Regions from separate parts of the Homo sapiens genome. Here all the other regions are reported to be linked to region 1. Evidence: microRNA targets listed by miRTarBase, many of them from high-throughput screens and not tested one by one. Region 1 holds a microRNA gene; each other region holds the end of a gene's coding sequence.

Region 1 (5,108 bases):
GGGGAGAGAAAAAGAATCCTCCCACTTCTGTAAACGTAGGTTTGCTGTATTAGAAATCCTGGTTCCCATTGGGCAGTGCTTCTGTCCAGGAGCCAAGTAAGGATTCTGCTGCACCTGCAGCTGCAAATGCCACATGGGCACTTTGGGCTGCTCTTACCTGTGAGCCCACACGTGGTGAAAAGACTAACTGCATGATGGACTAATTGACCCTGACTGTCATGAGAAGATGGTGCTGCCACAAGTGTGAATGGGAGGAGAAGATCTGGAATGCAGGGAGTCAGTGGACCTCTCTTGAGGCTTCTGTGTGGCAAACAAGAAATTGCAGCCATTCTGAGCTTCAATGAGAGTAGGTAGAAAGGGGTTGCTGTGCTGGATAGTGAAAAGCCAAGATGACCATCTGAAGGTCAGTCAAAGGCTTCTTGTCAAGAAGCTTCCAGGTTTCCTGATGAGATGTAGCTTGAGAGTCACTTCCTTTCCAATGGACAAAGTGATGGAACAAGTGACCTATTGTAGAATTAGTCTGAGGGTTTCACCTACATTTGCCATTATCCTGGCACACCCTCTCCATCTCAGGGCTGCGCCACCTTTTTGTGTCTGTCTGATACAGGCTAATTGCTCTCTGTGTACATAGGCAGAACAGGTTACTGTAACAAGTAGAGACTGCTATGGAGATTTCATTAAGGTTGACACATTCATTTCAACTGGCCAGGAGCGTCAGACCATATCCCAGAACACTCAGGCATTCTCAAGTACTAACAAATAATCCCTGTAAATCACTCACTTCCACAAAAGTTTAAAATAAAAATAGAGGTAGAGGAATCTTTCTCCAACTTTTTCCTGATGCTCTTTTCTATTCTAGTGTGATCCTGCTCTATGTTTTCCAATCTCATCATTCTTGTTCATTGCTGGTCCACTCAGTCCTTTTAAGTCAACAGTTATAAGTGTGCTTACATTCTATTAGAATGAGATCTGATGACAGGGCTTATCTAAGGCTGAAGTCCCTCAAGGACTTCCCTTCCCCAATCTCTCTCACACATCAATAAGAGCCGCAGGAGTGGCTTTATTATGTGAATTTATTGTGCCTTCTCTTGAAGAATATCATCCAATGCTGTTTTAAAATTGTATCTTTCAAATGCCATTTGAAATGGTTATAAGGCATAGAACAATATAAGCTATGGCATTTGCTAATAAGCATTAGCATGGAGCCATATGCTCCCAAAATATATTACACTTTCCACAAAGAAGTCAGAGACAGAGTTTATCAAGGATAGATACCATACTTCTTTATTCCCTAATAGCTATAGCTATATCCTTAGGGTTCTATGCTATTTTTATTTTGAAACTCTTAAATATGCAGTCTATTTCATCCCATAAACATATTAAAGACTAAATTTACCACAGGTTGTCAGACTAGAAAAAGATGAATGAGACTCTCTAAAGGCAGGCAAGCTCACTAAAAAAATATTACCCAAATGAAAACTCTGGGCAACAGAATAGTAAAGCAACACTCTTTAATGTTACTTGATCATTTGGTCACTAATTCCAGAGGATATTTGGTAAAATGTTCAACAGATAATCTGTTAAATGAGATGAAAGCCTGGGTTTGAGAAATAAAAGTGCTCTCTAAAGTTGTTTGAGTGGAAACTGTAGGGAAATAATGAGAGAGAGAGAGAGAAGAAGAAGAAGAAAAGAAGAAGAAGAAGGAGAAGGAGAAGGAGAAGAAGAAGAAGAAGAAGAAGAAGAAGAAGAAGAAGAAGAAGAAGAAGAAGAAGAAGAAGAAGAAGAAGGAGAAAAAGAAGAAAAAGAGGAGAAGAAGAAGAAGTAGCAGAGGAGGGGAGGAGGAGAAGGAAGAGGCAGAGGAGGAAGAGGCGGAGGAGGAGGAAGAGGAGGGGGAGGAAGAAGAGGAGGGGGAGGAAGAGGAGGAGGAGGAGGAGAAAGAGATTACATGCCTGTAATCCTAGCACTTTGGGAGGCCGAGGCGGGTGGACTGCCTGAGCTCAGGAGTTTGAGACCAGCCTAGGCAACACGGTGAAACCCCGTCTCTACTAAAATACAAAAAAATTAGCCGGGCATGGCGGTGTGCACCTGTAATCCCAGTTACTTGGGAGGCTGAGGCAGGAGAATTGCTTGAACCCAGGAAGCGGAGGTTGCAGTAAGCCAAGATTGCGCCATTGCACTTCAGCCTGGGCAACAGAGCAAGACTCCGTCTCAAAAAAAAAAAAAAATTGAATATTTTACCTCGTCTTAAGAGTTTCATGTCAATCTGGCCTTTATCCCTTTAAAAAGGGTCTTTCTTTTTTTTTTTTTAACTTCTCTCTGGGAGTTTCCAGAAACCTCTTTTTTCCTTTGGTGCTCATAAATTTAATGAGCATGTATATCAGTTGGGGCCATTTCTCATTCACTGCACTCAGGAATCAGCATGCCCTTTCAATAGGGGATTCATATCATTCAGCCCTGGGAATTTCCTTTAATTTTTTAAGAAATATAATTTTGGGCCAGGAGTAGCGGCTTATGCCTGTAATCCCAACACTTTGGGAGGTCGAGATAGGTGGATCACTTGAGGGCAGGAGTTCGAGACCAGCCTGGCCAACATGGCAAAACCTGTCTCTACTAAAAATACAAAAATTAGCTGGGCATGGTGGCAGGTGCCTGTGATCCCAGCTACTCAGGAGGCTGAGACAGGAGAATCCCTTGAACCCAGGAGGCGGAGGTTGCAGTGAGCCAATATCACGCCATTGCACTCCAGCCTGGGTGACAGGAGCAAAACTCCATCTCAACAAAAAATAAATAAATAAATATAATTTTGTTCTCTTAATTTTCTCTGTTCACTCTTTCTGAAAAGCCTGATGAATTGGTTTTCTATACTTCCTTTGCTTCTCTAATATTTTCCTTCTTTTTGCTCTGACTCTAAGGAGCTCATTGGATTTTCCAGGCCTTCTATTGAAATTTTTTTTAAATCCTAATTTTTCTTTATTAAAGATCTCAGTTTTTTTGTCACATTTTTGTAACATCTTGCTCTTGTTATCTAGATATGTTTCCAAAATCTCTTTTAATTCATCAATTAAGGGGATTTTTAATGTCTTCGGATTCTCTTCTTCTTTTGCTGTCAGTTTTTCTGTTGCTTGTCTTGGTTTTATGCCTTTTATATCAAGGCACATAAAAGGCATAAAACCAAGACAAGCAACAAAAAAAGGATTGATCACAGAAGTTTCTCCTTATGTGCCAATTGGTCTTCAGTTGCTCAGTTCTAGTTAAATCAAAAGACCAGGGTGGCTGGTGTGGTTTCCTCTGCTGTTGAGAACATTAGTCTGTTTTCCATCAGTCTCACCACTGAATGGGAATTCTTGCTGGATGCTCTGGGCAGGGCAGGGCATGACAGGGCAAATAGACTGGTGGGCTTTCTTTGGGTAAGCAGAAAAGGAACTGGCATTGACACTGGGCTCTCCAAGAGTCAAAATGAGAAAGACATGGTACACAGACTCCCAGACTAGAATACATATTATTTTCCAATTATGTTTTAGCATAATTTCTTTAAAACAGAGCCCTCTGTTCTTTGGTGGGAGTAGCATCCTATCCAATTTTATTATTGCCATTGAAAAGAAATATAATTTTAAATAAGTAGTTATCATTGCTATTCTAATTTGTAGGTAACACAGTATAATAGAATTAGCTATCTAATTTACAAGTTACTGAATAATATGATTTTTAAAAGGAAACATATCAAAAGATGTGAAAGAAAAGAAAGAAAATTTTAAAATAAAGCAACATAAACAGAAAACATAAAATAAGACTGAATAAATAGATAACACATATGAGTTATCATAATAATTATAAATGGGTTAAATTCATCTAACATGATTCAAAACAATTTTAGAATTATCCATCTTGGGTTCAAAACCAAAGTTTGTCGACAAGTATTTTACTTAAATTTACTATACTATCTGTTAGGCTACTGTCTCCCAGCTTCAAGCCCATCCTTCTACCTTCAGTATATGAGGCTGGGGCAGGAGCTCTGCAAACACATTTATGCTCTATCAATAGAAGGCACTAAAGGGATGACTGAAGCCTGGAGTAGAAAGAAAAAAATGTTTTACTTTTTCATTCTGAGAGTGTAATTTGTTCCACCATAAGTAGTTTGTTCCTGAATGTTCTCCCAACATTCCCCAAACCAGTCTCACTCCCCTGTAAAACACAGACACAGACACACACACACACACACACACACACACACACACACACTTTGAAATGCCAGCATTTGTTCTTTTGTTTTCTGCATCAGGTCCCTAAAATGGCATTTAAAAGATAAGCTGGGCAGACACCTCTCCTCAGAGGTCTAGGCCCCAGACTCAAGGGGTCCCCTCCTCTGAGATTTTAAGTTTTAAGAAGTGCAGCTTCTTTCCTTTGTTTTCCAGGTTCTATGGGTGGTAGCTGCTTCCAGCACTTGTTACTTCCATGATACTTAGAGTTCTCTTTGTTTCCTTTCAATTACCTGATAAACTTTATTCCTACTTAACAAGACAGTGCTGTCTTATCTTCTAAATGTCATTGTAGGGACCTGATGCAGAAAACCAAAGAACAAAGACTCAAGTAACTTCCAGCTTCCTATGTGTAGAAGTGAAAGAGGTGAATAAGTAGACTAATCCAGAGATATGAATTTGCAGGCTGGGAGCAGGGATTGATCCCAGAAGTTTAACATGATAGAGAGTATTGATATGATACATTATGTGGCTTGAACAGGATAGAAAAGAAGTAAATCAAAGCCAAGAATCAGCTGACAGACTGGAGAAAACTTCAGGAGTTTAGGGTGATGAGGTTTGCTGAATATTAAATTCTGGCATGGTGAAGTAAGTAAGAGGAAGAACAGATAGAAAGGTGTTTGCAGCCTATGGACAGTTCAGTGTTGAAGCGGTCCAGGAAATGACAGGATCAAAGCTGTGGAATTAGAGTTGAGATGGAGGCGAAGGCCAGTAAAGACAAGGAGATTGTTCTACTTAAAAATTTAGCGGCTTAAAATGACAGTGATATTTTGCAATTTTGTGAGTGAAGAATTCAAGGATTAAACTGGGCAATTCCTCTGGTCTATGTGTCAGTCACTTGTTTATATTCAA
Region 2 (5,108 bases), not on the chromosome of region 1:
CAGGAGTTCAAGGCTGCAGTGAGTTGTGATCACACCATTGCAGTCCAGCCAGGTTGACAGAATGAGACCCTGTCTCTTAAAAAAAAAAAAAAAAATCCTGGTGATGCTTTTCTGGATTAAAAAATAAAATAAAATAAAAATTGGCCTCACTACTCTAGCTTATTTGCATTTTCTAATAAATGTTCAGAGTCACCTTGTCAGTTCCTACCAAAAAGCCTGTCGGTATTATAATTGAGATTGCATGAAGTCTGTAGACAAACTTGAAGAGAATTGACACTTAACAGCAGTGACTTCCAGTCTGTAACCTTAGCATAAGTTCTATTTGTCTCCTTTAATTTTTCTCAGAAATACCTGTAGTTTTCTGTATAGAGATCTTGAATGTATTTTCTTAAGTTTATTAATAGACATTTTCACAATATGTAAATTCGTTTGTCTTTTACTTTTCCAGTTGTTTGCTACTTGTACATCAAAATAGCATTTTGTACATTTATCTTGCATCTTGTCTTGAACATTTCACTTATTCTTGGAGTTGTCATACAGATTTCTTAAATTTTTTTTTTTTCTTTTTTTTTTTTTTGAGACGGAGTCTTGCTCTGTCACCCAGGATGGAGTGCAGTGGCGCGATCTCGGCTCACTGCAAGCTCCGCCTCCCGGGTTCACACCATTCTCCTGCCTCAGCCTCCCGAGTAGCTGGGACTACAGGTGCCTGCCACCACGCCCAGCTAATTTTTTGTATTTTTAGTAGAGACGGGGTTTCACTATGTTAGCCAGGATGGTCTCTATGTCCTGACCTCGTGATCTGCCCACCTCGGCCTCCCAAAGTGCTGGGATTACAGGCATGAGCCACCGCGCCTGGCCTTAAGATTTTTTTCATAAGCAATCATGTCACGTGCAAATAGACAGTGTATTCATTTCTGGTCTGTGCTGTTCTTTTTTTTCTCATCTTATTGCAATTGCTGTGTGACCTCCAGGACAGTGTTGAATGAAAGTGATAAATGTAGGCACCCTTGTTTTGCTTTCAGTCTTAGGAGGAAAGACTTAGTGGGGAGGAAGTGGCAACTCTGAGTCAGGATGTAGACTTCTTAGCATATGCATTTGCACATCTTGCTCAAATCCCAGATTTCCCTATACCCTCTATGCTCCCTTTAAAACAATGCTTTCTTTCCACAGTATCTTTCCCCCAAGTCAATAATGGGTCAAATTTCAGCAGTCCCAAACTGGGGAAGTTCTGGGACTGCTGTGGTAAGAAATGGATTCAGACACCAAAGGAGCTGTAGGACCTGGCTAACATGTACAAGCAAGAACCAGAAGAGTATACCTGGGAGGAGATCCTGAGATTACTGCATCATTAGGTAGAATACAAAGTTGAATAGGGGAGAGTTTTTTGCTATGGGGTCACTGTATGACAGGATTAACACACTGGCAAGGGAAAAAGATGCTTCTAATGGATGCTGGGACAGTTTTTGAAGCTTGGAAAAAGCATTGGTTCTCATTAAATAAAATGAAGATAGCAGAATTGCCATGACAAATGAGGATGGGATCAAAAGAAGTGGATATACAAGGGAGAACAAGCGTCATGGAGATGGCCAATAGTAGCTGTCCCCTAGGCGAGGGCTGGCTGCAAGAGGTGCTGTTAAGGAACTGGGCTCTCTAGTTGCAATGGGAATGATAGGATCTCAGAATAATGGCAGCCAGGTGATAGCTCTTAGCATCAAACGCAAGGAGGGCCATAATTACCATATGGGTAGAAGGCTTAGAATAGAATCTGGGGAGATTGATCTTCAGAAATCTATGGTTCTGGCTCATAGCACATGAGTTTGCCAATGGCAAGTCATCTGCTTCCAATAAGAGTAAACTTATTGAGACAAGGGGTTGCTCCGTTGCCCAGGCTGGAGTACATGGCATGATCACAGCTCAACTGCAACCTTGAACTCCTGGGCTCAAATAATCCTCTCACCTCAGCCTCCCAAGTAGTTGGGACTACAGGCACATGCCACCACACCTGGCTAACTTTTTTGTTTCTTTGTAGAGATAGGGTCTCCCTTTGTTGCCCAGGCTGGTCTAGAATTCATGATATCAAGTGATCCTCCTGCCTCAGCCTCTGAGTGTTGGAATTACAGGCAGGAGTCATAGTGCCTGGCCCAAACTTAACTAAAAAACAGAGAAGGCAAGGTGCATTGGCTCACACCTGTAATCCCAGGACTTTGTGAGGCCAAAGTGGGAGAATTGCTTGAGTCCAGGAGTTTGAGACCATCCTGGGCAACATAAGAAAACCCTGTATCTACAAAATAATTTTTTAAAAATTAGCCTAGCGTGGTGGCACATGCCTGTGGTCCCAGCTGTTCAGGAAGCTGAGGTAGGAGGACTGCTTGAATGGGAGGTTGAGGCTTCAGTGAGCCATGGCTGTGCCACTGCACTCCAGTTTGAGATGCCATCTCAAAAAACAAAACAAAAAAACCAGACAGTAAATATAGGTGTTGTGGCCATATAGTCTCTGTGGCAACTACTCAGCTCTGCTGTAGTGAAACCAAAGCAGTCGTAGACCATAAATGCAATGTGTCACTCAGACTTTATAAAGCAGGTAGCGGGCTGGATTTGGTTTTTATACCCTGCACTAGGCAAAATGGGATATTATGTAAAGATAAAGGTATAATTCATAAATAGAGGGTTAGTAGTATGTCCCTGTAAGTCAAACAATATAAATTAAAAAGCGTAAATGTCTGGAAACTCAAGGTGTTGGCAACATTTTTTTAGGAAATTCTGATCCAGCATACCAAATTATATGAAAACATGGAGATTTTTACTATTGCAATCTAGTGGCTTAATGGACTTATTTAGAAACTTGTATCCAAAAATGCAGAATACATATTTTTTCAATGTTCATGGTATACAGAAATCAATCTTGTATTTAACCACACACACACACACACACACAGTCAAACTGGGTGGCACAGCGGCTCATGCCTGTAATCCCAGCACTTATAGGAAGTGCTGGGAGGCCGAGGCGGGTGGATCACAAAGGTCAGGAAATCCAGACCATCCTGGCCAACATGGTGAAACCTCATCTCTACTAAAAACACAAAAATTAGCTGGGCATGGTAGCGTGCACCTGTAGTCCCAGCTACTGGGGAGACTGGGGCAGGAGAATCGCTTGAACCCGGGAGGCAGAGGTTGTGCCACTGCACTGCAGCCTGGTGACAGAGCGAGACTCCATCTCCAAAAAAAGAGTAAAATTCAAAAAGTAGATAACTTCAGGCCACATTTACCAACCATAATAAAATTAAATTAGATATTATATCACTTAGGATGCTTTTGGCTGCGAATTTACAAAATATCCAACTAAAACTAACTGAGCAATCAAGTTTTATTTTTCTCAGATAACAAGGCATCAAAAAGGCAGTTCCAGAATTGGCCTAGTAGCTGAGTCTTCTCAGGCTCTGGGTCAGCTTCTCTGAGGTCCACTTTTTTCTCTTCTTGGTTCCAAGACAGCTGCAGCAGCTTCAGGCATCATGTTCTTATATAAAAATGTTTAAAAGCAGGAAGTGAGAGAGGAGGAAGTCTTCATGATAAACCTGTCTCTTCTGAATGAGGAAAATCTTTCCCAGAAGCCCCGGCAGATTCCACTGAGCAACACTGGGAGATACTGGCCATACTGTGCTGCACAGGAGACTGGAAAATTAGCATCTGATATTCTCAGAGTCCAAGGCAAGACACAGATGCTGCCAATAACAAGGGGAATTGGGTATGGCTGCTGGGATGACAACCAATGGTTGTCTGTGCCAGTCACATAAAACAATGTAACAATGTGGAAATTAAGAAATATTCTCCTAAATTTAGATTATTTCTGGATCAGAAAGAAACAAAAACTGAGATTATTGTAAGATGGTCTCTTTATTTCATCATTTTCTGTTACTTTCTTCTTTCACTGCCTGGATGTTTGGTAGACTTGAATAGCATGTTTAGTGCATATGAGTTTATCTTTCAGATTTTCATGTATATGCATGCATTCAAAGGCTATAAAAATTCCTCCAGTGTAGCTTTGGCTTTCCCCTTACCCTCACATCTCTTTGGCCACATTTCACATCTCTTGGCATGTTAAACTCTCAATTCATTCTTTTCATTACCATTTATGGTAATTGCATGATTTCTTTGTTAAGCAAATGATAATCTGGCTGTTTTTTTAACTTGTAAGAAAACTATAACTTTTGCTCTTGATAAAATTACTACACTGTGGTTAGAAAATGTGGTTCTGGAATGTGTTAGAAATAAAATTTCTCCCAACCTTTCCCAGCATTTTTGACAATTATGATCTGAACAATTTACATCCATAAAATTTTCTTTGATATGAATTTTCAGACTTAGGATAAAGGCTTACCTCTGAATGAAGGCATTGTCACTGGCATTACATTCTTCAAGTCTTTCTCCAAGAGGGAGAAGTAAGTCACAGTCACAATTAGCCTAGGCTAATGGGCTTTCCCCATTACTTCCATTCATATGGTTGCTTGCCAACATAAATTCTCTGATGATTAGTAAGGGGTAACTGCTGATGGAAGGCTTTTCTACATTTATTATATTCACATGTGTTTCTCTATTATGCATTCTCTGAGGTTGAACGGTAGTTGAATCATGACTCAAGGTCTTCTCACATTCCTTATATTCATAGGGCTTTTTCTCAGTGTGAATAACCTGATGATGAATCAATTGTGAGCAATGACTAAAAGCCTTCCCACATTCCTTACATTCATATGGCTTTTCACCTGTATGAATTCTGTAATGTACAGTAAGATGTGAGACCCGTTTGAAGGCCCTACCACATACCTTACATTGGTAGGGTTTCTCTCCAGTGTGAATTCTCTGATGTTGCTTGAGTTGTGAGCTCACTCTAAAGGCCTTTCCACATACTTTGCACTCATAGGGTTTCTCACCGGTATGAATTCTCTGATGTCGTATAAGAGTTGAGCCTTGATTAAAAGCCTTCCCACATTCCTTACATTCATAGAGTTTCCTGCCAGTATGAACAGTCTGATGTTGAATCAACTGAGAACGATGACTAAAGGTTTTCCCACATTCCTTGCATGCATAGGGTTTTTCACCAGTATGAATTCTAT
Region 3 (5,108 bases), not on the chromosome of region 1:
TAGAGCTATTAGGCTGGGCTATTCTCAAAGAGCTATTCTCAAAGAGCTATTGGGCCGGGCATGGTGGCTCACACCTGTAATCCCAGCACACTTTGGGAGGCCGAGACAGGCAGATCACCTGAGGTCGGAGACCAGCCAGGCCAACAAGGTGAAACCCTGTCTCTACTAAAAATACAGAAATTGGCCAGGCATGGTGGCTCACACCTGTAATCCCAGCACTTTGGGAGGCCAAGGCGGGTGGATCACCTGTGGTCAGGAGTTTGAGGCTAGCCTGGCCAACATGGCAAAACCCCTTCTCTACTAAAAATATAAAAATTAGCTGAGCGTGGTGGTGCGCACCTGTAATCCCAGCTACTTGGGAGGCTGAGGCAGAAGAATCGCTTGAACCTGGGAGGTGGAGGTTGCAGTGAGCCGAGATCGCGCCATTGCACTCCAGCCTGGGCGACAAGAACGAAATTCTGTCTCAAAAAAAAAAAAAAACAAAACAGAAAGTAGCCAGGTGTGGGGGCACACACTTGTAATCCCAGCTACTCAGGAGGCTGAGGCACGAGAATTGCTTGAACCTGAGAGGCGGAGTGAGCTGAGATCATGCCACTGCACTCCAGCCTGGGCAAGAGTGAGACTGTTTCAAAAAAAAAAAAAAAAAACCACACACACACCCCAAATAGAGCTACCATTTAACTCAGCAATCCCATTACTGGGTATATACCCAAGGAAATGTAAGTCATTCTGCCATAAAAACACATGCCCATCACTGGTGGACTGGATAAAGAAAATGTGGTACATATACACCATGGAACACCACACAGTCATAAAAAAGAATGAAATCCTGTCTTTTGCAGCAATATGGATGGAGCTGGAGGCCATTATCCCAGGCAAATTAATGCAAGAATAGAAGACCAAACACCCCATGTTCTCACTTATAAGTGGTAACTAAACACTGAGTACACATGGACACAAAGAGGGCCTTCTTGAGGGTGGAAGGTGGGAGGAGGGTGAGGACTGAAAAACTACCTATCTGATACAATGCTTATTACCTGGGTGGCAAAATAATCTGTACACTAAACTCCATGACACGCAATTTACCTATACAGAAAACCTGCACGTCATATACCCCTGAGCCTAAAAGTTGGAAGAGATAAAGAATCACTCTGCATCCCACAAATATGTACAATTATTGTGTCAACTAAAAATAAGAGGAACATAGAAACAAAAATCCCCCTCATTGCCCCGCTCCCTTTGCTCACTACTGTAAAAACTTCAGGGAAGATCTGCTACACAAACTTGTGTTGATGGTACTAGGGGGAGTAAAGGACAGGTGGTGTAGAGGACAGATGGAAAACCAGGGAAGCAGAAAGGCGAAGCCAGAGGATACAAGCTCCCTGCCTACTCTCCCCGGTCCCCTACCACCTGCAAAAAAGAACTGTCATCTCCCAAAAGAAATGATACTAGAAGAAGTAGTCCAACATGTTAGGATAAAAAGTTCTATTTAAATCTTAAAGGACAGTGGGAAAGTTGGGACACTTGTTCAGCTGACACTTGAGATACACGAATATAGTCAACCGCATTCAGGGAAACCAAGTTCCTCCATCATCACTTATGGGCTGTGTGTGGTGGTGACTCTAGTTTTCCTGGGGTCAAGAAACACAGTGACTACATGTATCTACCAACCTTGGGTGTGAGCCTGCCCTTACTAGAGCTTCAGAGGCTAATCGGCAGGGCTCCCATTTTTGGTCCTTCTGTCACTGACTGTCTCTCCTCACCAGATTATTGTGCCACTCAAGAGACAAACCTATCTGATAAAGTAATATAAATTCTATTGAGTCTTATTAGATGTCACTGAAAGGGAGGTAGTTACCTATTAAATTATATCTTCCCATTGATTTTGAGTATAAATTTAGAGACGTTTATCCGAGAAAATGATAAACTCTGGATTTTTTCATTTTACTTAACTGAGGGTCTACTCACCCAAAAATCCTAGCATCAACCTAAAAAGACCTTGCTTTTGACACTCTACTATTTCTTTCATTAAATGTGTTTGATTCTTTTTCAAAATGAAAATATCTTTTTCATAATAATATATTAAGATCACTGTAATTCTCATCCCTAATTTATATATATACATTTATATATGTATACCTACCTCACAGATTATAAAAGATTGAATGAGTTAACATATATAAAGCACTTAAAATAGTGTCTGGCACACAGTTCACTATATGTTAGCTACTTTCTTCTTCACACACACACACCCCTAGAAAAACTGAATCCTATATTTAACACATTATGGATATCTTTTCCTCTCAATACATTCTTTTTTGGGGAGGGATGGGATCTCATTACATTACCCAGGCTAGCCTTGAACTCCTGGCTCAAACAATCTTCCTGCCTTGGCCTCCTGAGTACTTAGGACTAAATACAGATTTAGTGAGTATATCTATCTTTCTATTCTATTTCAAATACTGCTGCAATGAATACCTTTATTCTTACCTCCATATTCACTTGTGACATTTTCCCATAACACGAATTCTACATATACATGAACACACTTACAAAAAATAGTTTAAAAAATTAACTACATTTTAAAAATTAACATCTGATTACCATTTTATTTAAATTAACTTCTAGAACTATAAAAGTTTAAAAAACAATGTTTAAAAGCTGAAGAGCATTGCTTCTTGGTCTTTTGGCTAAGATCAAGTGTAAAAGTTGAATACTTTACGTATACAAGGTACAAAGGCATCTTATTGCACAAAAAGTTTAGATCCCATATGCATCTATCATTTGAAATATGACTAATAAAAAAGTCTTTAACATTTTTTTAATGGGAAGAATATTCATTTTAATATGCCCCAAGATGTTACAGAACTTAAAATGAACAAACTTCAGTCAGTATAAAACAGATTTATTGTCAACATTCAGTCATTAACACAACCCAGGTAAATGAAACATCACTCCATACAAGGCTCATATATTCTTTACATGTGTACTATAAAATGATAAATACTTAAAAATTACAATGCAAGGAAAAATATTGTAAGATATACAATTGTTACAGACCCTTGTGTGAAAGTTCTTTATTTTTAAAGTTCTGCCTTAGGGAAAATACCATGCTACATATCAGAACCCAAAATAAACTGTTTCCTGAGGTTACAATGCTCAATGGTATACTGGATGCACCCTAAAATACTGTGTCTGACAAAAATTAAAAGAGAGACAGCCTTCAATGATGTTTAGAAAGAGGGAGAGTGACAGAGAGAGAGAAGAGTAATCAATTATTCTGTTGATTTCTGCTGGAATGGCCTCATTAAACAATTTATAGCACTGACAAGAGGTCTGTACCCAAAGGGAACAAAACCAGGACCAGTCTCAGCTTTACATAAAGGATTTCCAAATCAGACTAACTGACACAGTTCTAAGGCACTGTTACCAATGCTTGTCACTCTTCAACCCTTCACAGAGACTTCTTGTCTTACGTCCATGTTTTTCTAATTTCTTCCTAAGGGTTTACCAATTATACTTCTGTTTTCTATCATCCTAAATCCAAACCAAAAGACATTAAGCAATACAATAAAATCTACCAGTCTGGTCAGTTCTAAAGACACAAATTCTGGTTTAGACATTAATCATAAGACTCAAGTATATCTCTCCCCCTTCCACACACGCTCCCACCTCCCCTTACATATTGATCCATCTCAATTTTGAGGAAATGCTCAAATTCTAAGCAAAATTTCAGGATTTTTTCCCCCAATCAGTGATTTGACTGTTGGCAAGCTGCTTTGGTGGGCAGCAGTATAAGAAATTGTTTGGAATGCCTGGCTAGAACAGATAAAATGGATGTGATCAGTGAATTATTGTAACCTATTGTAGTAAACAGATGGATGGGAAGGATTTACCTTATGAACTTCCCTCACTCATTTCAGAAGGGAGAAAATTATGTCTTAATAAGGCAAGAAAAAAATCAGATAAGAAAATACAGCACTTTGGGAGGCCGAGGCGGGTGGATCATGAGGTCAGGAGATCGAGATCATCCTGGCTAACATGGTGAAACCCTGCCTCTACTAAAAATACAAAAATTAGCCAGGCATGGTGGCAGGCACCTGTAATCCCAGCTACTCGGGAGGCTGAGGCAGGAGAATCGCTTGAACCCAGGAGGCAGAGGTTGCAGTGAGCCGAGATCACGCCATTGCACTCCAGCCTGGGGTACAAGAGTGAGACTTCATCTCCAAAAAAAAAAAAAAAAGAAAAGAAAATACAGTAAAATATTAATACTGTAGTGACAGCAAGGAAGGGTAGGATTCTCAGCACCCTACCTTGCTGGGAAAGTTTCTGGCATAAAAGTCAAACTCTCTACCATCAATCTTTGCACAAGGATGGACAGTTGCTTACATCAAGAGGGGCAGAAAGCCACTTAAATACTTTTCTTCAAAGATGAGACATTCCTTTTTGAACTGAGCATTAGAGAAAGGAGAAAGAATTAGGGAAAGCTCACTCAAAGAGGTCCTCAAACATGCGTTGTCCCATTGCTATATATGCTTCCTTTTCTTCTGGTGTCATCTGGGCCACTAGCTCTGGCCGTTGGCTCACTTCACTGTAGGAGAACGGACGGCCAGCCACCATGACAATGGGGTCATCTGCTACTTCTTCAAACTCGTCATCTTCCTCTTCATCCTCTTCTCGTTTATGCACAGCCACAGCTGCCGGACGGGGTGGAGAATCATCATCTGACTCACTGGTCTCGCTTTCTGAGTCACTGCCATTGGCAGCGGTCACTGGAGCAGCTGCCCCCACTGAACCAGCCATGGCAGAGGAAGTCTTTTTCTCGTGAATGAGCAGTGCTCGCATGACCTCTTCGTTGTCATCAGGCCCAGCATGGCCTTCCTCACGCTCCTGAAATGCGTCCATATCTATGCCCCCTGGGGAGTAAAACTCAGAAAGTCAATATCCTTAAATATAAATGGCATTTCTTTATAGCATATAGACAATATTTTAACATATATTTAAATAATACGATAAAATAACAGACTTCACTGGTTCCATTTTTGAGCTGCTATCCATAAAATATTCAAAATATTTCTTACAAACTGGAGCTTAAGTAGCATAATGGT
Region 4 (5,108 bases), not on the chromosome of region 1:
TGAATTCTTCTCAAACTTTCCCAGAATAATGAAGAGGAGGGAATTATTCTAAACTCACTCCACAAGCCAGCATTACCATGACACAAGCACCAGATAAGGACACACACATGCAAAAGAAAACTACAGGCCAATATTCCTGATGAACATAAATGCAAAACTCCTCAACAAAATACTAGCCAACCAAATCCAAAAGTACATCAAAAAGATTGTTTACCATGACCAAGTGGAATTCATTCTAGGGATGCAAGAATGGGTTCAACATACACAAAACAATAAACATGATAAATCAACAGAATGAAGAACAAAAAATGTGATTATCTCCATAGGTGGAGAAAAAGCCTCTGGTAACATTCAATATCCCCTCATGATGAAAACTCTTAACAAATTACACATAATAATAGAAAGAATGGGCCGGCCGCGGTGGCTTACACCTGTAATCCCAGCACTTTGGGAGGCCGAGGCGGGCGGATCACGAGGTCAGGAGATCAAGATCATCCTGGCTAACATGGTGAAAACCCATCTCTACTAAAAATACAAAAAATTAGCCAGGCATGGTGGTGGGCACCTGTAGTTCCAGCTACTTGGGAGGCTGAGGCAGGAGAATGGTGTGAACCCAGAAGGCGGAGCTTGCAGTGAGCTGAGATCATGCCACTGCACTCCAGCTGGGCGACAGAGCGAGACTCCATCTCAAAAAAAAAATTAAAAAAAATTATAATAATAATAGAAAGAACGTACCTCAACATAATAAAGGTAATAAGTAACATACCCACAGCTAACATCATGCATAATGGGAAAGTGCTGAAAGCTTTCTCTCTATAATCTGAAACAAAACAAGTATGCCCACTTTCACACCTTTTAACAAAGTACAAAAGGTCTGAGACAGAGTAATCAGGCAAGACAAAGAAATAAAGGGCATGCAGATCAGGAAGCATGAAGTCAAATTATCCCTGTATGCACATGACAGGATCAAATATATAGAAAACCCTAAACTCCAAAAGTGGCACCAAAAAAATCTTAGGACTGATAAATTCACTGAACTTGCAGGATATAAAATCAACATGCAAAAATCAGCAGCATTTCTATACACCAACAATGAATTAGCTGAAAAAGAAATCAAGAAAGCCATCCCATTTACAATACTTCAACAAAAATAAAATAAGAATACATGGAAAACTATATAACACTGATGAAGTAAATCAAAGAGGACACACATAAAAAAGGAAAAACATCCCATGGTCATGGATTAGAATGGTTACTATAAAAATGAACATACTTTCCTGTAAGAGATAGCTTATGAAAAAAAATGAACATACTACCTCAAGTGATCTACAGATTCAATGCACTCTTAACAAAATACCAATGACATTTTTCACAGAAATAGAAATAGTAATCCTAAAATTCATGATATCACAGAAGATACTGAATATCCAAAGCAATCCTAAGCAAAAAGAACAAAATGGGAGTCATCACACTACCTGACCTTGAAATATACTACAAAGTGATGGTAACCAAAACAGCATGGTTCAGGTATTTTTTAAAAACCACACAAACCAATGGAACAAAACAGAGAGCCCAGGAATAAATCCCATTTACAGCCAACTGATTTCTAACAAAGGCACAAAGAACATTCACTGGGAAAAGGACAGTCTCTTCAATAAATGGTGCTGGGACACTGGATATTCATATGCAGAAGAATGAAAGTAGACTCATCTCTCACCATACACAAAAATCAACTCAAAACACCAAGTATGCTGGCTCATACCTGTAATCTTAGCTACTCAGAAGGCTGAGTTGTGGCTCACTTGAGTCCAGGAGTTCAGGACCAAGCTGGGCAATGTGGTGAGACTATGTCTCTAAAAAATAATTAAAAAGCAAAAACAAAAATTGGGAATGTATTTTTAGGGCAATTTGAATCTATGCTCTCAGGATAATCAACTCAAAATGGTTTGAAAGCTTAAATGTAAGAGCAAAAACTATGAAACTACAGAAGAAAACATAGGGGAAATGCTTCTGGATATTGGTCTGGGCAAGGATTTTATGAATACCTGAAAATCAAGGTAACAAAAGCACAAATAAACAAAGGGATTATATTAAACTAAAAAACTTCTGCACAGCAAAGGAAACAACAGAATGAAGAGACAACTAGTAGAGTGGGATAAAATATTTGCAAACTATTCATCTGAAAGGGATTAATATCCAGAATATAAAAGGAACTCAATAGCAAAAAAAATAAAAATAAAAAATCTGATTTTAAAATGGGTAAATAAGGTGAATAGACATCCCTCAAAAGGAGACATACAAATGGCCAAGTATATGAAAAAATGCTCAACATCACTAATCAGGGAAATGCAAATCAAAACCACAATGAGATATAATTTCACCTCAGTTAGGATGGCTATTACCAAAGATAAAAAATAAAAAATGCTGCTGAGAACATGGAAAAGGGGGAACTCTTATATATGGCTGGTAGGAATGCTAATTAGTATAGCCATATGGAAAACAGTATGAATGTTCCTCAAAAATCTAAAACTATAGCCAGGCACGGTGGTGTGTGCCTGTAGTCCCAGCTACTCAGGAGGCTGAGGTGCAGGACTGCTTGAGCCCAGGAGTCTGAGACCAGCCTGAATAACACAGCAAGACCCCATTTTAAAAAATGAAAAATAAACAAAAGTTAAAAATACAACTACCATATGATCCACTGGTAATGATCTATACCACTACTGGGCATATATGCAAAAACAAATATATCTATACGTCAAAGAGAGATCTACACTCCTATGTTTATTGAAGCACTATTCATAATAGCTAAGAAATCAGTCTAAGTGTCCATTATCAGATGAATGAAGAAAGAAAACATGGCATATATACACAATGGAATACTACTCAGCCATGAAAAATAAACCTGTCATTCACAGCAACATGAATGAGCTTGAAAGACATTAAGTGAAATAAGCTAGACACAGAAAGAGAAATACTCCATGTTTCTACTCATATGCAAGCATAAAAGGTTGAGAATGGTGGTAACCAGAGGCTGGGAAGGACAGCAGAGAGGCAGATAGAGATTGGTTAACAAATACAAAATTACAGCAAGTAAGATTCCATTTGAATAAGTTGTAGTGTTCTGTGGCACTGCAGAATGAGTACAATTGGCAATAATACATTTTATATTTTCAAATAGCTAGAAAAGCAGACTGTGAATGTTTCTAAACACAAAGAAATGATAAATGATTGAGATGGATATGCTAATTACCCTGATTTGATCATTACTCTTAGCACACATGTATTGAAATATCACACCAAACCCCATAAACATTGTCAATTAAAAACAATAAAAGAAACAAAAAGAATACCAAAAGAGAAATTCCAAAATATTCTGATTAAACATATTAATTACTACGACTGGACTCAATCCATGGTGACAACTACCTGCATATACATATGCAGGTTCACCTGTTAAAATTCCAGTCACTTTATGTATAGTCAGCCTTCACACAATCTTCTGTAAGACTGAAAAATGAGATTCCTTCTCTGTGTTTATTTTCTGAGTTTATCATAATCTTTTAACTTACTTTAGCTACATGTCTTATTTCATTTTTGGTTCCAAATTGACCTCTAGAAAATTGTTGAGGTGAATTTTGAACTATTTACTCTCTCTAAAGAGCAGTAAAAAAGCTGAGAAACCACAATCAGAGGGAAGAATTAGGACTCCCTGGATTACATTATGTACAAACAGCTACAATATCATCTCCATCCTACAGAAAAATAAAGAAGAAATTGACAAGTAGATCCAGATCAAGAAAAAAGTATGGTACTGGGTGGTTAAAGACACACGGAGAAACAATTTTTTTAAAAAAGTCAAAGCGTCTGAAGTGTGCAGTAAAATGTGCCCATTCATATGTACATCCTTTATCTCCTTAAATGTAAAAGTATTTCATAACTCAAGCCTCCATCTTTCTCATAAAGATATATGCTTCTGCTCCTCAAGAGTGGAGACAATGCTGTGGAACAAAGCAGGCTTTCACAAAATGTTTTCAAACAAACCGTTTGTCTACAGCACTGGACAGCAGTGAATGTATACACAGGGAAAATAAAGGGGATGAGGCCCTTTTGTTTCTGAAACATTTCCCTCTCCCAAATAAAATAAGGAGGGGATGACAAATTGCCATGGGCTTGTCAGGGAAGTCTGAAAGAAGCTGTGCTTCCATTTCTTTCTCTTCCCTATGACTCCTCCTCCTTTGTTTGAATGTCCCTGAGATAACATTTCACTGTAAACTAATAAGAAAGATGTGGCTGAAGGTTTTCCTAAGTGCACAGTAACCACTGGGTCTCTTTCATGGGTGAATTATCAGATGTAGAATAAGACTCTTGGCTGTGTCAATTTCTAACATAATTGTTTAGATGACAAATGATGATCTAAAACAGGTTTTCCCACAGAGATGATACTTATGGAGTTTCTCTTCAGTATGAATGACCAGATGGTAAGATGTTTCCTCTCACCACAGATTTTCTTCAGTGGTTATATTAAAAAACTATTTCGCTAATAGGAATTCTTGGATGTTGACTGAAGTGTACGTAAAAAGTCTTTCCACATCTGTTACAATGGTAGGGTTTCTTCCACTATGAATCCGTTGATGTCGAGTGAGGAGGAATGAGCGGCAATTGAAGGCGTTTCCATATTCACTGCACTCACTGGGCTACTCTCAGTGTGGATGATGGAGTGTTGAATGAGATCTGTGCTCTCACAAGAAACGTTCCCACTCTGGATGGGTTCGTGGGACTTCTCTGCAGTGTGAATCCGCTGGTGCCTTGTGAGGGGTGACCTGCGGTTGAAGGCCTTCCCGCACTCCACGCATTCATAGGGCTTCTCTCCAGTGTGGATGCTAAAGTGTCGAATCAGGTTTGTGGTCCGACAAAAGGCTTTCCCACATTGGATGCATACATACGGCTTCTCTCCAGTATGAATCCACTGGTGCCTTGTGAGCCCTGACATGCGGGTAAAAGCCTTTCCACACTGTAAACACTCATAGGGCTTCTCTCCAGTGTGGATGTTGAAGTGTCGAATGAGGTCTTTTCGAATGCTAAAGGCTTTCCCACATTCTTTGCACTCA
Region 5 (5,108 bases), not on the chromosome of region 1:
TAGAGTGATTTATCTAAGGTCTCAAAGTGAATTTGCCGTTGGGTCAAGACTAATTATAATAACAACAACTACTGACGTTTATATGGGCCCGGCATTGTGCTGAACACTTTCATGGATTTTGTAACAGAATCCCTAGATCAGCACTGTCCAGTAACTCTGCAGGGATGGGAGTGTCCGGTACAGGGGCCACGAGCCACATACGGCTGTTGTGCATTTGACACACAGCTCATGTGACTGAGGAACTGAATTGTTCATTTTATTTGATTGTAGTCTGTTTAAACAAGCACACAGAGCTAGTAGTGGTTCCTCTGCTGGGCAGCTTGACTTAGAGCAGACCCATGGGTGCGGGTGCGGTGATGGATAAAATCACATCTGTGAAGCATGGTGGGACACTCCATAATACCCCTCAAGAGACAGAGTGGACGTTCCCCGAGTTCTTCCTGTTCTCAGCAGTCGGCCCCATTGGCCCCAGGGAAGGGTGTCCTGGCCCCCCACTGTCTTCCTCAGTTGGGCAGCTCCGCCGCGTCCTCTTCTTCTTGGCCTGGCTGACTTCTGCTGTCTCTCCTCAGATTTCTACCACTCCAAACGCCGGCTGATCTTCTCCAAGAGGAAGCCCTAATCCGCCCACAGGAAGCCTGCAGTCCTGGAAGCGCGAGGGCCTCAAAGGCCCGCTCTACATCTTCTGCCTTAGTCTCAGTTTGTGTGTCTTAATTATTATTTGTGTTTTAATTTAAACACCTCCTCATGTACATACCCTGGCCGCCCCCTGCCCCCCAGCCTCTGGCATTAGAATTATTTAAACAAAAACTAGGCGGTTGAATGAGAGGTTCCTAAGAGTGCTGGGCATTTTTATTTTATGAAATACTATTTAAAGCCTCCTCATCCCGTGTTCTCCTTTTCCTCTCTCCCGGAGGTTGGGTGGGCCGGCTTCATGCCAGCTACTTCCTCCTCCCCACTTGTCCGCTGGGTGGTACCCTCTGGAGGGGTGTGGCTCCTTCCCATCGCTGTCACAGGCGGTTATGAAATTCACCCCCTTTCCTGGACACTCAGACCTGAATTCTTTTTCATTTGAGAAGTAAACAGATGGCACTTTGAAGGGGCCTCACCGAGTGGGGGCATCATCAAAAACTTTGGAGTCCCCTCACCTCCTCTAAGGTTGGGCAGGGTGACCCTGAAGTGAGCACAGCCTAGGGCTGAGCTGGGGACCTGGTACCCTCCTGGCTCTTGATACCCCCCTCTGTCTTGTGAAGGCAGGGGGAAGGTGGGGTCCTGGAGCAGACCACCCCGCCTGCCCTCATGGCCCCTCTGACCTGCACTGGGGAGCCCGTCTCAGTGTTGAGCCTTTTCCCTCTTTGGCTCCCCTGTACCTTTTGAGGAGCCCCAGCTACCCTTTTTCTCCAGCTGGGCTCTGCAATTCCCCTCTGCTGCTGTCCCTCCCCCTTGTCCTTTCCCTTCAGTACCCTCTCAGCTCCAGGTGGCTCTGAGGTGCCTGTCCCACCCCCACCCCCAGCTCAATGGACTGGAAGGGGAAGGGACACACAAGAAGAAGGGCACCCTAGTTCTACCTCAGGCAGCTCAAGCAGCGACCGCCCCCTCCTCTAGCTGTGGGGGTGAGGGTCCCATGTGGTGGCACAGGCCCCCTTGAGTGGGGTTATCTCTGTGTTAGGGGTATATGATGGGGGAGTAGATCTTTCTAGGAGGGAGACACTGGCCCCTCAAATCGTCCAGCGACCTTCCTCATCCACCCCATCCCTCCCCAGTTCATTGCACTTTGATTAGCAGCGGAACAAGGAGTCAGACATTTTAAGATGGTGGCAGTAGAGGCTATGGACAGGGCATGCCACGTGGGCTCATATGGGGCTGGGAGTAGTTGTCTTTCCTGGCACTAACGTTGAGCCCCTGGAGGCACTGAAGTGCTTAGTGTACTTGGAGTATTGGGGTCTGACCCCAAACACCTTCCAGCTCCTGTAACATACTGGCCTGGACTGTTTTCTCTCGGCTCCCCATGTGTCCTGGTTCCCGTTTCTCCACCTAGACTGTAAACCTCTCGAGGGCAGGGACCACACCCTGTACTGTTCTGTGTCTTTCACAGCTCCTCCCACAATGCTGAATATACAGCAGGTGCTCAATAAATGATTCTTAGTGACTTTACTTGTAATATTACTATTGTGGTTATTATACCTTATAAGAACAAATAAATGGGCTTTTGGGAAGGATTTCATAATTAAATAATTTTAAAAATTAAGCATTTAAATTTAGAGAATGCAGAAAACTTAGCAAACAGAAAGACTGCTGCAAAAAACAACAGCAAAACAAAAACTACTGTCACACCTCTGCAAAGATCACCAATGTCAATATTTTGGTTTGTTGTGTAATCTTTTTGTAAAGAATATATTATAGCTTAACATCATTATTCATCAGATAAATGCAAATTAAGATACCACAATAAGATACCACCATACACTTACCAGAATGATTAAAAAAGACTGACAGTGCCAAGCATTGGCAAGGTTATGGAGCAACTGGATCTCTTATTTAAAAAAACTGTTTGGGCCGGGCGCAGTGGCTCACACCTAGAATCCCAGTGCTTCGGGAGGCTGAGGCAGGAGATCACTTGAGGCCAAGGGTTCAAGACCAGCCTGGCCAACATGGTGAAATCTCTACTAAAAATACAAAAATTAGCTGGGCATGGTGGTGCACGCTTGTAATCCCAGCTACTTGGAAGGCTGAGGTGGGAGGATCACTTGAACCCAGGAGGCAGAGGTTGCAGTCAGCTGAGATCATACCACTGTACTCCAGCCTCTTCCAGGGTGACAGTGAGATTCATCTCAAATAAATACATAAATAAAAAACTGTTTGGTAATATCTTCTAAAGATGCCTACCTTCATGGCTACCTCATGACCCAGTAATTCTATTCCTGGACATGTTCTCGAGAGAAATGAGTTCATATTTCCACTGAAAAAGGCATAAGAATGTTCTACACAGTGGCTCACACCTATAATCCCAGCACTTTGGGAGGCTAAGGCAGGAGGACGGCTTGAGCCCAAGAGTGTGAGACCAGTTTGGGCAACATAGCGAGACTCTTATCTCTACAAAAAAAAAAAAAAAAAAAATAGCCAGGCGTGGTGGAGCGTGCCTGTAGTCCCAGCTACCTGGGAGGCTGAGGTGGGAGGATCACTTGAGGAGCTTGGGAAGTCGAGGCTGCAGTGAGCCCTGACTGCACCACTGCACTCCAGCCTGGGCAACAGAGTGAGACCTTGTCTGTCTCCCTCAAAAAGAAAAAAACCAAAAGAATGCTTCCAGCAGCATTATTATTAACAGACCCAAGCTAGAAATAACTGAAATGTCCATAACAGAATAGATATGCAAATTGTGGTATATTTATATAGTGGAAAGTTATCCAACATTACAAAAAACAAGGTGCTGTTGCATGCATCTTCTGGTTGTCTATTCATAATTAACCACCCCAAGACTGAGTGGCTTAAAACAATAATCATTTATTTGCTCCCAACACTGCAATTTGGCCCAGAACTACTTTTCAAATGTGGAATAATTCTCTACTGCACAGGGCAGAGCTTTCTACTAGAATCATAGAGTTCTGAAACGAGACTCTCCCCGCCAGAGGGGACTTCCAGGGACTTCACAACTGTCTACTTATCCACAGATAAAAGTCCAGGACCAGGGAATACACTGGGGCGTGTGACCCAAGTGCTTGTCCCATAGCCTGCACCTGTTTCAGAGCCCTCTCTTGCTCCGGCCGCTGCTTAAACATGGCAGCTTACTAAATCATCCAATAAATGGGCTGGAGTGATCTTTAGTACACTGCCTCTGAAACCCAAATTAAAAAGTGGTAAGAGGGGGGTGGGGGCCTGGGGGAGGGATAGCATTAGGAGAAATACCTAATGTAAATGATGAGTTGATGGGTGCAGCAAACCAACATGGCACATGTATACCTATGTATCAAACCTGCACATTGTGCTCATGTACCCTAGAACTTAAAGTATAATTTAAAAAAAAGAAAAAAAAATGGTAAGAGGTGCAAGATATACTAAGTTGTCCTTTACCACAGAGGGAATGACCCAGCATGCCCCAGTTTATTTGACCACTTAAAACTTTAATGATTTGATAGATCTCTAAATTGTTGTAGGGAAAGTGGATGTGAACCACTTTTGATCCCCTTTCCTGATACGGATTGAAAAGAACACACTTGTCATAGTATTGGCTTCTTACCATCAGAGGCTGTGTAGACTATTCTAGTAAGGATACGGTATCTGATCATGGCTGTGATTAGGGCTGCCCCGTGGATAATCATCAATCACCATGCTTCAGTGGGTTTTTACAGGGGCAGTATGTGGTGGATCCTATGGAGATACTATAGGGACCACCTCAGTATCCTTTAAGTCTCTGAGGGAATCACTAATTTCTACCCACCTGGGATATGCTATTGCTTCTGATTTACTACCTTGACCAGCGGGATAATTTTAGAGACTTCTACTTGGTCTTTCTTTCTATAATGGCTCTTATTCTACAGATGACAGAGAACGTGAGAATGTGGCAGAATGTGAGAGTTCTACTATCTGTGAAGCTATGCATCCCAATTTGTACTCAAGGGCTAGGAAATAACCATAGAGTAGGTCCACAGACTCACTGGGAGATGAGCTTGGCTAGGACTCTATTACCATCTGGCCTTCTATGTCCCCCTCTCTGAAAGGAGGCTATAATGGTGTTTTGGGTCATCTAGAAGCAGTGAAAGCTCAAACCCTTTATCTAACAGACCTCAAATGATCTGGTTATTCCCAGTTCCACACTGTACAGCTATTCCGGTAAATAGCCAGAGGGTGCTTTCGGGAAGAATCAAGGAAACGTTTATTTTATATGTTTATAGTGGCATTACGGATCTTTCTCTTCCATCAGTGCGTCCTGGGTCAGAACTGGCTCAAAGCTGGAAACTAGGTAAGAGATTGCGATTTTCTGTCTCGGCAGCTGACATCAGCCTCTGCTCACTCACCTTGATCTTTTGTGGTTAAGTCAAGCAAGACTCTCATTAAATGCTCACCTCTCTTGCCCTAAGGACACCACTGCTGCAGAGCCCTGCAGACCAAAGACC

What was found. The annotated mature microRNA hsa-miR-3910 reads AAAGGCAUAAAACCAAGACA and lies in region 1 at 3,124-3,143, opposite strand. An mRNA with a match to its seed (bases 2 to 7 or 8) in the 3' UTR can be bound and repressed. Matches are read on the target gene's strand: a 7mer-m8 pairs with bases 2 to 8, a 7mer-A1 pairs with bases 2 to 7 and ends in A, and an 8mer does both.
Region 2: the mRNA of ZNF582 is a reported target of hsa-miR-3910. Seed matches in the 3' UTR shown: 7mer-m8 at 4,385-4,391 and 7mer-m8 at 3,383-3,389.
Region 3: miRTarBase lists GTF2E1 as a target of hsa-miR-3910. Seed matches in the 3' UTR shown: 7mer-A1 at 3,946-3,952 and 7mer-A1 at 3,417-3,423.
Region 4: the mRNA of ZNF460 is a reported target of hsa-miR-3910. The part of its 3' UTR that is shown has no 7-base or 8-base seed match.
Region 5: miRTarBase lists CDKN1A as a target of hsa-miR-3910. Seed matches in the 3' UTR shown: 7mer-A1 at 684-690.

What each region holds. Positions count from the first base shown.
Region 1 is chr9:91,633,154-91,638,261 of GRCh38, forward strand. MIR3910-2 (microRNA 3910-2) reads right to left here and starts at 3,192; the gene lies at 3,111-3,192. MIR3910-1 (microRNA 3910-1) reads left to right here and starts at 3,098; the gene lies at 3,098-3,208.
Region 2 is chr19:56,379,405-56,384,512 of GRCh38, forward strand. ZNF582 (zinc finger protein 582) reads right to left here. Exons shown (of 5, transcript NM_001320371.4): 5 at 3,347-5,108. The coding sequence ends at 4,459. It also overlaps the pseudogene ZNF542P. Among named protein-coding and RNA genes, the nearest start is that of ZNF582, 12 kb to the right of the region's middle. RefSeq lists an enhancer at 4,257-5,108.
Region 3 is chr3:120,780,851-120,785,958 of GRCh38, reverse strand. It overlaps GTF2E1 (general transcription factor IIE subunit 1), which reads right to left. Exons shown (of 5, transcript NM_005513.3): 5 at 2,890-4,916. The coding sequence ends at 4,489. Among named protein-coding and RNA genes, the nearest start is that of GTF2E1, 41 kb to the right of the region's middle. RefSeq lists an enhancer at 4,677-4,726.
Region 4 is chr19:57,291,717-57,296,824 of GRCh38, reverse strand. It overlaps ZNF460 (zinc finger protein 460), which reads right to left. Exons shown (of 3, transcript NM_006635.4): 3 at 2,756-5,108. The coding sequence ends at 4,595. Among named protein-coding and RNA genes, the nearest start is that of ZNF460, 14 kb to the right of the region's middle.
Region 5 is chr6:36,685,182-36,690,289 of GRCh38, forward strand. CDKN1A (cyclin dependent kinase inhibitor 1A) reads left to right here. Exons shown (of 3, transcript NM_000389.5): 3 at 570-2,151. The coding sequence ends at 619. Among named protein-coding and RNA genes, the nearest start is that of CDKN1A, 9.0 kb to the left of the region's middle. RefSeq lists a silencer at 2,596-2,675.